Linked DNA regions of Homo sapiens. The protein of the gene in region 2 purifies or fractionates together with the protein of the main gene of each other region. This does not show direct contact. Each region holds a gene or a part of one and is shown on either strand. Other genes may lie near its edges.

Region 1 (3,891 bases), on a different chromosome or scaffold from region 2:
ACTGCACCTGGCCTACTACACATCTTCTATGGTGAGATTCCATGTTATGTAACAGGCACGTAAGGTAATCAGACACCTGTGACCACAAGGAATTCAGTATAGGGAGGCATACCAGGTAAATACCAACACCATAAGTCATTAAAGAAATGCAAATTAAAAGCACAACAGATACTATTTCACATCCACTAGGATGGCTATAATCAAAATGTCAGATGAGTCTTGGTGAGAACGTGGAGAAATTAGAACCCTTGGACACTGCTGATGGGAATGTAAAATAGTACAGCCACAAACAATAGTCTGGCAGTTCCTCAAAAAGATAATGAGTTACCATTTGATCCAGCAATTTCACTCAGAGAAATGAAAACTTATGTCCACATAGAAACTCTTACACATTCCTGCAGATTCATATGGAGCAGAGAAAGTTTAGAATAAATTTTTTAAGTTTAAAAATAAAATTTGTACACATATCTTTATGGTAGCATATTATTCATAATAGCCCAAAAGTGAGAACACCACAAATGTCCATCAACCGAAAAACAGATAAATACAATGTGGTATGTCCATACAGTAGAATATGCGACTATAAAAAGGAACGAGTACAGATATACATGTTGCACAATGTGAGCCTTAAACATGCTAAATGAAAAAAGTTCGGCACACAAGGCCACATATTGGATGATTTAATTTATATTAAATGTTCAGAATAGGCAAATCCATACATAGAGATGGAAAGTAGACTTGTGGTTGCTTAGGGCTGGAGGGATGCGGGAAAAGGGAAATAAAATCTAACGGGCACAAGGTTTCTTTCTGAGGTGATGGAAAGTTTGAGGTTCTAAAATTGATTATGGGCCAGGCACGGTGCCTCACGCCTGTAATCCCAGCACTTTGGGAGGCCGAGGCAGGCAGACCACTTGAGGTCAAGAGTTTGAGACCAGCCTGGCCAACATGGTGAAACCCCATCTCTACTAAAAATACAAAAATTATGACCGGACATGGTGACTCACATCTGTAATCCCAGGTTATAAATAAATAAATAATAAAATGCCCTTTTTTTCCTTTATTTTTTTAGTGGAGTTCTTTAAGCCCAGCTACAATGGGAGGTAAGACTCATAACCATAATGAAAAGAATGGTAAACAAGACTACAGCAAGAGCATTTTGAAAAAGCTAGAGAGCAGGCCGGGCACAGTGGCTCATGTCTGTAATCCCAGCACTTTGGGAAGCCAAGGCAGACGGATCATCTGAACTCAGGAGTTCAAGACCAGCCTGACCAAAGTGGTGAAACCCCATCTCTACTAAAAATACAAAAATCAGCCAGGTGTGGTGGGCGCCTGTAATCCCAGCTACTCAGGAGGCTGAGGCAGGAGAATCGCTTAAACCCAGGCGGAGGCTGCAGTGAGCAAAGATTGTGCCACTACACTCCAGCCTTGGCGACAAGGGTGAAAATCCGTCTCAAAAAAAAAAACAAAGCTAGAGAGCAGATGGATGAGTGATAACTTTACGTAAGTGAAGAGTGGAAAACCAAGTCAATAGCAGGGCTAGCCTAGAAGACAATTTCCATCATGGAATCCCAGAAAGAGTGAGTCTCAACTTCCAGACAAATGAAATGGAAATACTTTGTGAGAATCACAATAGAAATTGTGTGTAAAAGTGCTTTTCAAATAGTAAAGTACTGCAAGAGCTGACTTTAGAGAAGCCTTATCACTACCTTGCCAAGTCATCACCCTGAGAAATCGCTCGGCTACTTCCTGAGGGAAACTCCAATGCTCCGGAAGGCACAGTGTTCCATCAGGTCTTTCAGAACACAATTTCTCCAGGTTAGCAATCAGGACATTCAGGCAGATGTTGACCAAAGTGTAGGGAGATGCCTCTTCCTAGCAAACAAAACCCCAAACAAACTTTGTTAGAATACATCTGCAACAATTCAACATAAAACTGGTCATGCCATACCTATTCCACTTGATGAGAGTATCTGAAGATACATCCTTCATACTCTAGTAATGATTTATATGTAACGAAACCACCTCATTCCTACTGTTAACTGAATGGAAAATTTAATCTGTTGTCCTTTCTGTTGTACAGCTGTCCCTCAAAATCTGTAGGAGATTGGTTCCAGAACTCTCTGACCAGTATCCACAGATGCTCAAGTCTCCTTATATAAAATGGTGTAAGGTTTGCATATAACCTATGCAGACATTCTCATATACTACAAATCATTTCTAAATTACTTATAAACACTAATACAGTATAAATCCTTTATACTGTATTGTTTACATAATGACAAGAAAAAAGTCTGTACATGTTCAATACAGATGCAGGTATTTTTCCCCAAATATTTTCCATCCAAAGTTGGCTGAATTCACATATACTGAACCCGTAGTCAGAGAGAACATACTGTATCTTGAAAAACATTAAGTTCTTTTTTTCTTTTTTTTGAAACAGGGTCTCACTATCGCCTAGGCTGGAGTGCAGTGGCACAATCACAGCCGAATGCAACTTTGACTTCCCCAGTCAGGTGATCCTTCCACTCAGCCTCCTGAGTAACTGGGACTACAAGCCCATGCCACCATGCCCAGCTAATTTTTTGTAGGTTTATTATAGAGTCCCACTTTGTTGTCCAAGCCAGTCTCGAAACTCATGGTATCAAGAGATCCTCCCACTTCAGCTTCCCCAAGTGCTGGATTACAGGCATGAGCCACCACACCCGGCCCCAATATTAAGTTCTCTTAACCCTTTACTTATCACCTGTTCTGTGCTAGCCACTGAAAATACAGAGGTGGGTAAGACATGGTTCTAGTCCCTTTAAAGCTAAAGTTTAGTGAAGAATACAAACAAGAAATCTGACAATTTCAATGCAACATTTGGGACACTCCAAGCAGAGATTACATGGTCATTCACTCAAAAAATATGTATTCATTGATTATCATGTGTCTATTCTCAAAACTGTTCACAACCTCAAACAGTGATACAGTCAAGGTCCTATGAAAGTGTAAGAAACTGACAGTAAGGTGAGGCTATAAAGGCATGTACAGATAGTCCCTGACTCATGATTTTTGGAATTACAACGGTATAAAGTAGAAACCATACTTCAAATTTTGAGTTTTGATCTCTTCCCAGGCTAGTGACATAATATGATACTCTTTCAATGCTGGTCAGCAGAGTGAGCTGCAGCTCCCAGTCAGCCACACGATCACAAGGGTAAACAACCAATACTTGATATCTTCTTGAACACTATGCCTGCTAAACCATCAACAAGTGTCAATGGGCTCCAATGCTTAGAAGAGCAACTGGTGACCCTGTTGATGTAGCTTCTCCATAATCCAGCAATTAACTTTTAGTTCAATGCTTCAAACATTCTTCAGGCCCAGAGTGCTTTCAACTGTGTATGTTTACAGTGAGTACACATATGACCACTGTTTTTCACTGTCAGTATCAATAAATTCCACGAGATATTCAACACTATAATGAAATGGGCTTTGTGTTAGATGATTTTCCTCGACTGTAGGCTAATATAAGAGTTCTGAGCACATTTAAGGTAGGCCAGACTAACCTATATTTGATAGTTTAGGTGTCTTAAATGCATTTTGAACTTAGAATATTTTAAATTTACAAGGGTTTTATTGGTATATAACCCTATCATAAGGCAAAAAATGCCTTTCTCCTCTACAAAATAGAAACGCTGGCCAAGCGTGGTAGCTGTTAATTCGTGCATTTTGGGAGGCCAAGGCGGGTGGATCACTTGAGGTCATGAGTTTGAGACCAGCCTGGCCAACATAGCAAAACCCTGTTCTAAAAATAAAAAATTAGCCAGGCATGGTGGCACATGCCTATCTATAGTCCCACCTACTCAGGAGCCTTGAGGCAGGAGAATCCCTTGAACCCAGAAGGCAGAG
Region 2 (3,891 bases):
GGCATACGCCTGGCTAATTTTTGTATTTTTAGTAGAGACAGGGTTTCGCCATTTTGGCCAGGCTGGTCTTGAACTCCTGACCTCAGGTTATCTGCCTGCCTCGGCCTCCCGGAGTGCTGGGATTACAGGTGTGAGCCACTGCGCCTGGCTGGGAATAAGCTTTCGACTTGCCCAATTCAGATAAATTGTTTTTTTTTTTTTTTTTTTTGACGTGGAGTTTTGCTCTGTCGTCCAGGCTGGAGTGCAGTGGCGCTTGGCTCACTGCAACCTCTGCCTCCTGACTTCAAGCGATTCTCCTGCCTCAGCCTCCCAAAGTGCTGGGATTACAGGTGTGAGCCACCATACCCGGCCCAGATAGGTTGATCTTATAACAATCCAGAAACAAATGTCATAGTCAAGATTTGGTAGATAGATTTAAAACTAAAATATTCTGCCATTGGAAGTGAAATGTCATAGCACATACGTGGACGTTATGCATTTAGAGATGTTATAAAAATGTATTGGCAGTATACATAGCACTACTCAAGAAGCCAAAGAAACACTTGTGCAGTGCTAAGTGTCACATGTCTGCTTCTGCCAGAGGCTAGGAATAGTGATCTTGCTATAATGTGAGAACCTGAATCATGTTTGTAAAATAGGAGGCTGGGAGCAGTTCCAGGCCACAGTGAAGTGTGTTGCTTCTGTCACTTTATATTCTTATATTTCCTTTCCCTCAGACAATCAACTGTTGATGCCTGTACTTGTGAAAAGTTGTAAGGCAATTTTTAGGGTTGTTGTCAAAGAAAAGCTTGGATTACATTAACATTTGTACTCAGCCTTTTAGGCAATACACCAGAGGGGGCTGGGAATTGTCTGTTTGTTCCTATGATAAGTAGATCTTACTGTAAAATAGTAAATGTCCATTGAAAAGCAAGTAACACAACCTGTGCTAACTGGGAGCACTTGAACAATTTTGTTCCATTCTGAATAACTTTTCAGCAAGTAATTCTAAGCTTTGTCTTATATCCTTGTGTAAAATTGCTACCTTCATTTTTACCCTATTTGATTTCTTAAATGGTTTGTTCAAGAAAAAAAAAAAAAAAAAAAAGAATAGAGGGTGTAGATTGGACCGGGTCCTGAGGATCCAATTTGGTAGGGAAGTCTAAAGGTCATTGCCTGCAAGCTATGTGGTGAGGGAGGAGAGAGCTGATACTTGGGGTTCACACCATAGGTGGAGCCATAAGCCAGATGCTTACTTTAGAAAGGCGCAGACCTGCCATAGGAAGGATTTTGTCCTCTGCCTAGAAAAAGGGAGGCGTGGGTGGGATAAGGAATGGGCTTGGGATGGAGACTAAGGTTTGAGATGGTTTATATTCTGCACCTACAGGCTTGGCTGACCCTCAGGGCCACTCTTTGTGGGAAAAGAAAAAAGTTATCCAGGCTAGTGGAGCAGCTGGGTTCTAAACTAGGGCACTGCTTTTTCCCCTTCTCCACATATCAAGGCAAGATTGGATGATCTACTGCCCCAGTCAAGGTCTGCCAGCAAGCTCCCCTCAGAGCCTTATGTAACAGGCAGGCCTGGTTGCAGAGGACCAGTAGCTGACCTACCTGCTCAGCCCTTCCCTACAACTCATTAAGAATATATGAAACACTTATTGGTATAAGCACTAACCAGTGTCCTTCTAAATGTGTACACATAGGCAGTTAGAAGTGAAGCTATTCATTGAGTTAAATTCCTGCAAACACTACATAATTGATTTGACCCAAATTTGCCTATAATTATCAACATACCATGGAAAATTTTAGTATCCTCTAAAATTTTAAAAGCTAAAAATATACACCTCAGTTTTTGAAATTCTACTACATCATTTATACTGAAAACATATAGTAAACCATTAATCCAAGAACAGTAATAGCTGATATATATGATGAGCAACGAGTGTTTGACACCGGTAAGAGTCCTATGAGGTGGGAGCCATTCTTACAACCTATTTACAGATGAGAGCACTGAAGCTCCAGCAGGTTCAGTTCTTTTCTAGAGTCACAGTGCTGCTAAGAGCCAACAGTGAAGTCGGAGGAGCTGAGTTTATACAATCAACTTGAGATCAGTTTGCTTTAGGGTAAGGAAGAAGAGATGGTGGTCCAACTCTGCCTGTAAGATCTTCCCATCGTTGCCCATTTCTCACGGTTTCCCTCTTCCTTCAGGGTCCCCTGGCGATGGCAGAAATGAACCCTGCACAGGTGAGTGGAGTGTTTTCTACCTTTCACCTACCAGTTATCTCATAGATGGTTTTGGCACCTCCATGTAAAGAAAAGTGGTGTCCAGAGACTCTCTTTCTGTCTTTCTCCCTCTCTTATGTCTGAAAAGTGAGTGATTCCACCAGTTCTAGTATCTTAAATTAGGTCTGGGATTTTTGTTTGATTGTTTTAAGTTTACTGTGACACCTTACCTGGATGGCCCTGGATTATGTGGAGTGGCTCCCATTTTTGACAGTTGACGTGGTAACATCTGTCAGAGTGTCATGGGCACAAGATTAAGAATGTTTCAGTGTTTAGAGGAGAGACTGAACTGGATTTTTAGGGAACTGCAAGTGTCTGTTATATCGGATAGGAATAGGGAGCAGAGTGGGAGGTGGCTAGAGACACACAAACATCAGGCCTGGAATGACAGCCTAGGTCCTGGGTCTCTAATCTAAGGGAGGTGGTAGATGGGGAAGATTTGAAGCAGAAGAGGGCAGTGATAGGACCCTAGCTTAAGGAACTTTCTTTGGCGTCTGAGTGGAGGACAGACTGTGGAGGTGAGGGTAATGGCAGGGAGATCTGAGAGGATGTTCCTGCAGCAGTCTAGGTGGATGTTGGTGGTGACTTGTCAAGAGTAGCGGTGGCTTCAGGATGTGTTTTGAACTGGAGCTGCCCACATTTTATGATGTAGAGAGTGAGGCAGCTGGGGGGGTGGGATAGAAGGGGAATCAGGAGTGGCCCCATGGTTTTTGTTTGGAAGCATAGATGCTCCATCAGCTAAGATGGGAGAAGTCAGCAGTATTAGGAATTTTCAGAGTGAGTGTGAGGAGTCAGTGTTTGTTCAAGCCACAGATGTCTCAGAGACTCCTGGTGGAGGAGTTCAGGTTGGAGACGTCCACACTATGGTGGCTGTCGTATGGACCAGGATGAAGCCATGGATTCAGTTTAGGTGACAGCATCTCTAGGTTATGGTGGCAGTGCTGTTCGAAGACAGAGAATTGGAATGGGGCATGAGAACTGGGTCTCTTACTGGGTAGCTGTGCAGTGGTGGAGGAGTCACTAGACAAATGAGGGAATGGAGTGTTTGTGGGGATGAGTGTATGTGAGATGGTGGGGTATAGGAGTGAGAAAGACTTCTGAAGGAGAGTGGACATGATGGGGTTGCTGAGGAGGGTAATAGGGTGAGGTCGGAGAGTTGCTAAGCATCAGTTGGAATGAGATGAGGATGGGAATTCTATTAGTCTGTTTTCATATTGCTACAAAGAACTACCTGAGACTGGGTACTTTATGAAGAAAAGAAGTTTAATTGACTCACAGTTCTTTTTTTTTTTTTTTTTTTTTTTTGAGATGTGGCCCAGGCTGGAGTGCAGTGGCACAATCTCGGCTCACTGCAATCTCTCCCTGCCAGGTTCAAGCGATTCTTCTGCCTCAGCCTCCTGAATAGCTGGGACGACAGACTCACCCCACTACGCCCAGCTAATTTTTGTATTTTTAGTAGAGATGGGCTTTCACCATGTTGGCCAGGATGGTCTTGATCTCCTGACCTCGTGATCCATCCTCCTCAGCCTCCCAAAGTGTTGGGATTACAGGCGTGAGCCACCGCACCCAGCCCATAGTTCTTCAGGCTTAACAGGAAGCATAACTCGGAGGCCTCAGGAAACTTACAATCCT
Region 3 (3,891 bases), on a different chromosome or scaffold from region 2:
CCACACCTGGCTAGTTTCTGTATTTTTAGTAGAGATGGGGTTTCACCATATTGGCTAGGGTGGTGTCAAACTCCTGACCTCAAGTGATCCACCCGCCTCGGCCTGGTGCTGGGATTACAGCCATGAGCCACCATGCCCAGCTCCAACTTTATTAGCTCCAGGGGGTGGTTCAGAATATATTTTGTATTTTAAACCCAGTTTGTCTCTAAGATAATCTTACTATAATCTTATATCAATTTCTTTAATATCAGGCTCTGTACTGAGCCTTGGGGGACACACAGATAACTAAGAGCCAGTCCCTGCCCTCCACCCAGCATTCGGCCTAGTGAGTTGAGTGAGAAATGCATTAAAGGCCCACTGAGGCTGTCTTATGGGAGCACTCAGGAGGGCACAAAAACAGAGTCTGGGAAGCTGCACAGAAGAGACCCGAAGGACAAGCAGGAGTTCACCAGATACAGGGAGGACATTCCAGGCAGGGAACACTGCAGGGCAAAGGCCCGGAGAGGTGAAAGCACAAGGTATGCCAGGCAGACGAGGCAGCTCAGTGTAGCCACAGAGTAGACGTAAGAGGGACTCTTGTCACACAGCAGACGGCTTCATGAATCAGCCTAAGACACACTAACTTTGACTCACAGGCCATTTTTTCTCAGGGGGACAGAGGCAGGTATTGCCATGCTAGTTGGCATTTAGAAATCTGTGTGTGTATTGGGGGTTAGTGGGGAAAACGTGACAACGTGGATGGATCTCAAAAACTATGTCTTTTTTTTTTTTTGGAGATGGAGTCTCGTTCTGTCACCCAGGCTTGAGTGCAGTGGCATGATCTTGGCTCACTGCAACCTCCACCTCCCAGGTTCCAGGGATTCTCCTGCCTCAGCCTCCCGAGTAGCTGGGACTACAGGTGTGTACCACCATGCCCAGCTAATTTTTGTATTTTTAGTAGAGATGGGATTTCACCATGTTGGCTAGGCTGGTCTCGAACTCCTGACCTCAGATGATCCACCCGTCTTGGCCTTCCAAAGTGCTGGGGTTACAGGTATGAGCCACTGCGTCTGGCTTCTTAAAAACTATTTCATGACACAAAAGAGCATGTACTATATGATTCCACTTATATGACGATTAGGAACAGACAAAATCCATCTACAATGATAGAAATTGGAATAATCGTTATCTCTGAACTTTTGCGGGTGATGGAAATCTTCTGAGTCTTGCTCTTGGTGATGGTTATATGAGCTCATGCAGTTGTCAAAATGCACTGAACAGAACACTTAAGATCTATACATTGGACTGCTTGTAAAGTAAACCTGAAGAACATGTGTGAGCATTTTTGGTTGTTATAATGACTGAAGGGTGCTCCAGGCAAATATATAGGAGATGGGGCCAGGGATGCTTTTACATCAAAGAACTCTCCCACCCAAAGGCCAGTAGGTCCCTGTTGAGAAATACGGCTGCAAGCTATGGGGAGCCACAGAAGGATGGAAACACCAGAGACTTGGCCACATCTGTACTTTGGTAAGACAGGGCTCTGTGGTGGTGGGAGTATCTTGGGACAGTGATGTGGCACAGAAGGTGGATATATGATTTTCACTGCCACTCCTAGGCCTCGTATTTGCCTAACTCTTAGCCCACTGGCCTGATGCTGCCCCGAAGGGGCCCCAGGAGGTCCCTCTGAGGTACCTCAGATGCTGACCAGCTAGGGAAGTAGCAGAGGCAGCAGATGGCAGTGGGAAATGGCAATGCCTCACCCCCAGCCTCCCTGCCTCATGATAAGCAGCAAGGATGATAGAAGTGATCATCTTCCTCTGAAGTGGAGTCTCAGTGAAGGGGTCTCCCTGAGTGTCTAGAGTCCCTGGAAGCAGGGCTGAACGCTACTGCTGCTACTATAGGAAAGCACTGTTTTACATCATGGGCTAAAGAAGAACACAGCTGACTTGCGTGAAAATACTCACCTGACCCCTGCCTTCGGAAAGCCTTCTCTGACCTCCGTCCTGGGCAGGTGTCTCTCCTGTGTTCCCACAGCCCTACAGAGCACAGTTACTGCCTAGGTTTAAATTCTGGCTCTGACTCTTGCTGTGCGTACCTGAAATAGAGTTACTCAAGCTCTCTGTTTCCTCACCTGCAAATTGAGGATAACAGAAACCGTCTTCACTGAACTGTCACCAAGATTGAGATAATGTAGTAAGCACTCAGTAAGAGTGAGTGCTTATGATGAGCCTAGAATGCATCAGTACAGACCACTGTTGCCAGGTGACTCCTCTGGCACCTCCACTAGACATTAAGCTCCTTGCGGGCAGGGTCCTTGTGGTCGTGTTGATTGCTGAGGGCCTTGTGTCCACCACAGTGCCTGGTACAGTAAATACTTGCATGCTTGAATCAATTCCACCCACTAAGATCTCTCCTGAGAGCTTTCTTTTTCCACCCACAATGCCTCTAAATCACAACAATTCTTCAGAAACGGAGTCAGACTCATTTGTATTCTGTTCCCTCTTCTCTCTTCTCTGTTACCTCCATGGCCATGCAGAACCCAAACAACATTTAGTTTTTAAATTAACAGCTTCTTCCTGGACTCTCTATTCCTAAGACTTCACTCAGTGGTCTTCATACTGGGCACACAAAAATCCTTTTTAAAAAATGCACCCTGCACCTCTCAAAAAGTGAAACACAGAATGATCATACGATCCAGCAATTCCACTGCGAGGTATATACCCCAAAGAATTGAAAGCGGGGGCTCAAACAGATCCTGGCACACCAATGTTCATAGCCGTATTATTCACAATAGCCAAAAGGTGGAAACAGATGAATGGCCAAACAATGTGGTATATCCATACAATGGAATATATTCAGCTTTGAAAATAAATGAGATTCTGATATATGATACCACAGAGACGACCCTTGAAAACATTAGGCTAAGTGAAAGAAGCCAGACAAAAAAAGACAAACATGATGCCACTTACACGAGGCACCTAGAATAGGTGAATTTATGGAGACAGAAAGTAGAACGGAGGTCACCAGAGGCTGGGGGAGATGGGAATGAGGAATTAGTATTTAATGAGTACAGCGATTCAGTCTGGGAAGATAAAAAGATTCTGGAGATGGACAGTGGTGATGGTTGTATAACACTGTAAATATACTTAACGCCACAAAATTATACAGTTAACATTGGTTAAAATGGTAAATTTCGTGTTATGTGTATTTTACCACAATTTAATAAAAGCCTCCCACACCAAACAAACAAAACACTGGAAGGACAGACTTCCCTCTGAAATCTGACAGAGCTGCATGTCCCTCTGCCACCCCTAGGGCTCTGTGACCTTGACCCCCTGGCCCATGATCTATCTTCCTCTCCATCCTCTCCTTGGTTCCAACTCTTGGGTTCCCTGTTCTTTTTCTTTTTTTCTTTTTGAGACAGGGTCTCACTCTGTCACCCAGGCTGGAGTGCAGCGGCGCTATCTTGGCTCACTGCAACCTCTGCCTCCTGGGTTCAAGCAATTCTCATGCCTCAGCCTCCTGAGTAGGAGGGGCTGCAGGTGTGCGCCACCATGCCTGGCTAATTTTTATATTTTTACTAGGGACAGAGTTTCACCGTGTTGGCCAGGCTGGTCTCAAACTCCTGACCCCAAATGATCCCCTGCCTCAGCCTCCCAAAGTGCTGGGATTACAGGCATGAGCCACTGCACCAAGCTCCCTGTTCTTTTTCTACTCCAGACGCCAGGGCCACGACATGTTCTTTTCCTTGCACCCCTCTTTAACCACCTTGATCCCATCATATCTCTTGAGGGTGCTTCAGATGGATGCTTTGAGACTCTGAGATGGAAAAGCTATGTGCCTGGAGATGCTCATTATTGACTATGTGCAACAATAAAGACATAGTTAAATAAAGCAGGGGTCAGCCAA
Region 4 (3,545 bases), on a different chromosome or scaffold from region 2:
TGTCTTTGTTTTTAAGACAGCATCTCGCTCTGTCTCCCAGGCTGGAGTGCAGAGGTGCGATCATAACTCACTGCAGCCTTAACCTCCCGGGCTCAAGCGATCCTCATTAGCCTCGCGAGTAGCCTGGACCACAGGCTCACACCACCGTGCCCAGCTAATTTGGCTGTGTATTTTTAAACAATACTTTGTGAGTAGTGGCTTTTACTTGCTACTGGTGGCTCTTTGGTGGGGTGGCTGATCCAGGTGGTTGGGAGGGGCCTGGAGAGCAGGAATAAATCGCCTTGGAACACTCGGGTGTTTTGGGGGAATGGTCTTACCCAGGGCCCGGGGGTTCTTCGGACTCAGTGGCAATCTGTTCAAGTGGTGGGGTTGCCTGTCCCCACTAGAAAAGGTCATGGTGAAAATGCAGCCCATCCTGGTGCTGGGGGCATCCCACTCCCAGAGATTGGGGCAGACCAGGGCTGTGGCCCTTTTCGCCTTGCCTTTCTTCCCCTTTCCGGGGGCTGAAGTGGTGGCAGTGGAGACTGGCTTCTCACTGTGCCCCAGGCTCCTGGCCCCAGTGCCTTTCCTAGAAGCTGACCTGTGGGTAGGGGTCCCCGAGTCCTTGCCTTCCCCAGAGCCTCGCTGGGTCAGCAGAGGGACTGCTGGGCGGACCCCCATCCGCCGATGACACATCGCCATGGGCTTCTTGATGGTGAAGCCCTCTACCAGGAGCCGGATGCCCACATATTGAGGCACCTCCACAGCAGGCTGTGGGCAAGAAGAGGAGACAAGGCCCACTCAGTCAGTGGTACTGGAATCCTTGGCCCAGCGGGACCCAGAGTAGAGATGGGTGGAATTACTTTCTGAGGCACCTGGTCAAAGAGGCGTTTCTGAGCTGAGAAATGGAAAGCCCACCTCTGAGTCAGTACCTAGAGTCACAGAGCTCCAGGAATTGCTAGCCCAGAGGAAGGGGGAATCCTAGCCATGTCCCACCAGCACCCCTCAGCCACATTTCCCTCCTAAGCTGCCCCCAGCCCCTGCTGGAATGCGTGTGGCTCCACTGCACAGGCCACTGCTGGTGGACAGCTTCCTGAGCTGAGCCAATCAGATTCTCTGCACAGAGAATTTGAGTTACGCCACCCAGACAAGTAAGAGGTTTGGAGCCTGCCTAGAGCCTCGTGTGAATCCAGGTTATGGGGTAGCAGAAACTAAGAACCTTAAAGAAGACAGTCTGTGGAGAGAATGAAGTAACGAATATGCAGAGGAAGGCAGAGAGAAGGGTCCAGGAGAGGGACTCCCTTACAACTCTCAGTTCCTATCAGGCCAAGCTGTATGTCCTGCCCTCAGCTGGGCTCCAGGAGAGCTCCCTGTGCCTTGCTAGCAACCTGGAGCCAGTTGGAGGTATCTTCTGTGCCACTGAAGGATCCTGATCAGAATCTATCTAAACATCAGAATTACTTGGAGCTTGTTAAAAATACAGCTATTGGCCGGGCATGGTGGTCACACCTGTAATCCCAGAGCTTTGGGAGGCTAAGGTTGGCAGATCACTTGAGGTCAAGAGTTCGAGATCAGCCTGGCCAACATAACCAAACCCTGTCTCTACTAAAAATACAAAAAAATTAGCAGGTCATGGTGGCAGGCACCTGTAATCCCAGCTACTCGGGAGGTCGAGGCAGGAGAATTGCTTGAACCCAGGAGACAGAAGTTGCAGTGAGCCGAGATCGCACCATTGTACTCCAGCCTGGGTGAAAAGAGCGAAACTCCGTCTCAAAAAAAAAAAAAAAAAAAAAATGCAGCTATTGCCGGGCGCGGTGGCTCTCTGGGAGGCCAAGACAGGCGGATCAGCTGAGGTCAGGAATTGGAGACCAGCCTGGCCAACATGGCGAAACCCCATCTCTACTAAAAACACAAAAATTAGCCGGCCATGGTGGGCGCCTGTAATCCCAGCTACTCGGGATCTGAGGAGAATCACTTGAATCCGGGAGGCGGAGGTTGCAGTGAGCCGAGCTAGCACCACTGCACTCCAGCCTGGGTGGCAGAGTGAGACTCTGTCTAAAAAAAAAAAAAAAAAAAAATCAAATAAAAATGTAGCTATCAGCACTCCCAAGTAGCCCCAGATGATGAGGGAAAGTTCATCTTTACAGAAGAATCTCAGCTAATAAATGCAGAAGGAACAACAGAATTAGACATTTGCCATTTTGCAACTCTAATAAAATAGGCAATAATCAAAACTGGTATCAAAACAATTAGATGAAAGGATGACAGGAAAATGTGTAATCTGGACAGAGCCAACACAGCACCTTACAGAAAAATTAATTGCAAAGGGGAGATGTAGCTTATAATGGAGAGAATCTGGTAGCCACCACTGTAACCCACAGTCAAACTCAGCAGCACTAACTGTGAGACACTCTCACAGGATGTGCCTTGTGATGCCACATGAGGTACGCGGCATCACCTCTGAAGTGCTCTTGGGAAAAATGTTTAACCTCATCAAACTATTTGACCTAACTTCTAGTTCCTGAGACAATCAGCTAACAGAAGACCAAGGTAAATCACACCATAAGGAAACAATCAGATAAATCCAGAATGTGGGACAGTTCTACAAAACAACCCGCCTGGCCCCTCAAAAGATCAAAACTATGGGGTCAAAAGGCACTGGGGCTGGCCTAGATGAAAAGAGACAAAAAAAAACAGTGCAAGGTATAAGCCTTTACTATGTGCTGGCCTAAAAACAAAAACAAGAACAAATCAGCAATAAAAGACATTTAGAGGGCTTGGCGCGGTGGCTCATGCCAGTAATCCTAGCATTTTGGGAGGCCGAGGCGGGCAAATCACGAGGTCAGGAGATCGAGACCATCCTGGCTAACATGGTGAAACCCCATCTCTACTAAAATACAAAAAATTAGCCGGGCATGGTGGCAGGCACCTGTAGTCCCAGCTACTCAGGGGGCGGAGGCAGGAAAAGCGCTTGAACCCGGGAGGCGCAGCTTGCAGTGAGCCGAGATGGTGCCACTGCACTCCAGCCTAGGCAACAGAGCAAGACCCCGTCTCAAAAAAAAAAGATATTTGGGGGGCATTTGAAAAATGCAGATATACATAGTCTCCTCCCCAAGCTAGACATTTTGGGTCAATCTCTGGGGGTGGAGCCTCCTCACATCCATACCTTTAGAAGCTTTCAGATGCTTCTGGCCTGGGCACTGGCATTGGGAGCACTGCACTACAATGGCACCTTTTCCCTCAGCTTGCTCATATTTTCCTGCCCATGTATTTCCCCGTTTACATTTTTTGAAACCAAAACGCCAATATATTAATTTAAGAAATGATCAATAACAACTGTAACAAAGGCGAGGTCACTTAGGTCATGTGATCAGTACGTTCTCTTCCTGTAACCAAACCTTGACAGAAACCGGAGGCTAATCAGAAGCCACTTAAACTGCCACAAGAAATTCTATCCAGAACTCAGAAAGCCTTGCAATCAATTTTCTGACTGATTTTTTAAAATGCTGTTCTATTTTACAAGTAGACTCCAATCTCTTTTTGGAGCAAGACGAGTGAAATAATTA

What was found.
Region 1: the proteins of ZNF547 (region 2) and ZYG11A purify together in Homo sapiens (affinity purification with mass spectrometry; one large-scale study listed by BioGRID and IntAct). This does not show direct contact.
Region 3: the proteins of ZNF547 (region 2) and PTPN5 purify together in Homo sapiens (affinity purification with mass spectrometry; one large-scale study listed by BioGRID and IntAct). This does not show direct contact.
Region 4: the proteins of ZNF547 (region 2) and ARPC4-TTLL3 purify together in Homo sapiens (affinity purification with mass spectrometry, with the first as the bait; one large-scale study listed by BioGRID). This does not show direct contact.

The regions. Positions count from the first base shown.
Region 1 is NC_000001.11:52,852,446-52,856,336, reverse strand, and holds part of ZYG11A (protein zyg-11 homolog A), read right to left. Parts: intron 1,873-3,891; coding exon 1,707-1,872; intron 1-1,706. UniProt on the Homo sapiens protein: Probably acts as a target recruitment subunit in an E3 ubiquitin ligase complex ZYGA-CUL2-elongin BC.
Region 2 is NC_000019.10:57,366,360-57,370,250, forward strand, and holds part of ZNF547 (zinc finger protein 547), read left to right. Parts: intron 1-2,184; 5' UTR 2,185-2,196; coding exon 2,197-2,220; intron 2,221-3,891. UniProt on the Homo sapiens protein: May be involved in transcriptional regulation.
Region 3 is NC_000011.10:18,781,473-18,785,363, forward strand, and holds part of PTPN5 (tyrosine-protein phosphatase non-receptor type 5), read right to left. Parts: intron 1-3,891. UniProt on the Homo sapiens protein: May regulate the activity of several effector molecules involved in synaptic plasticity and neuronal cell survival, including MAPKs, Src family kinases and NMDA receptors.
Region 4 is NC_000003.12:9,830,309-9,833,853, reverse strand, and holds part of ARPC4-TTLL3 (ARPC4-TTLL3 fusion protein), read right to left. Parts: intron 751-3,545; coding exon of another isoform or gene 318-750; intron 1-317. Other genes in the region: tubulin monoglycylase TTLL3, read right to left, coding at 609-750.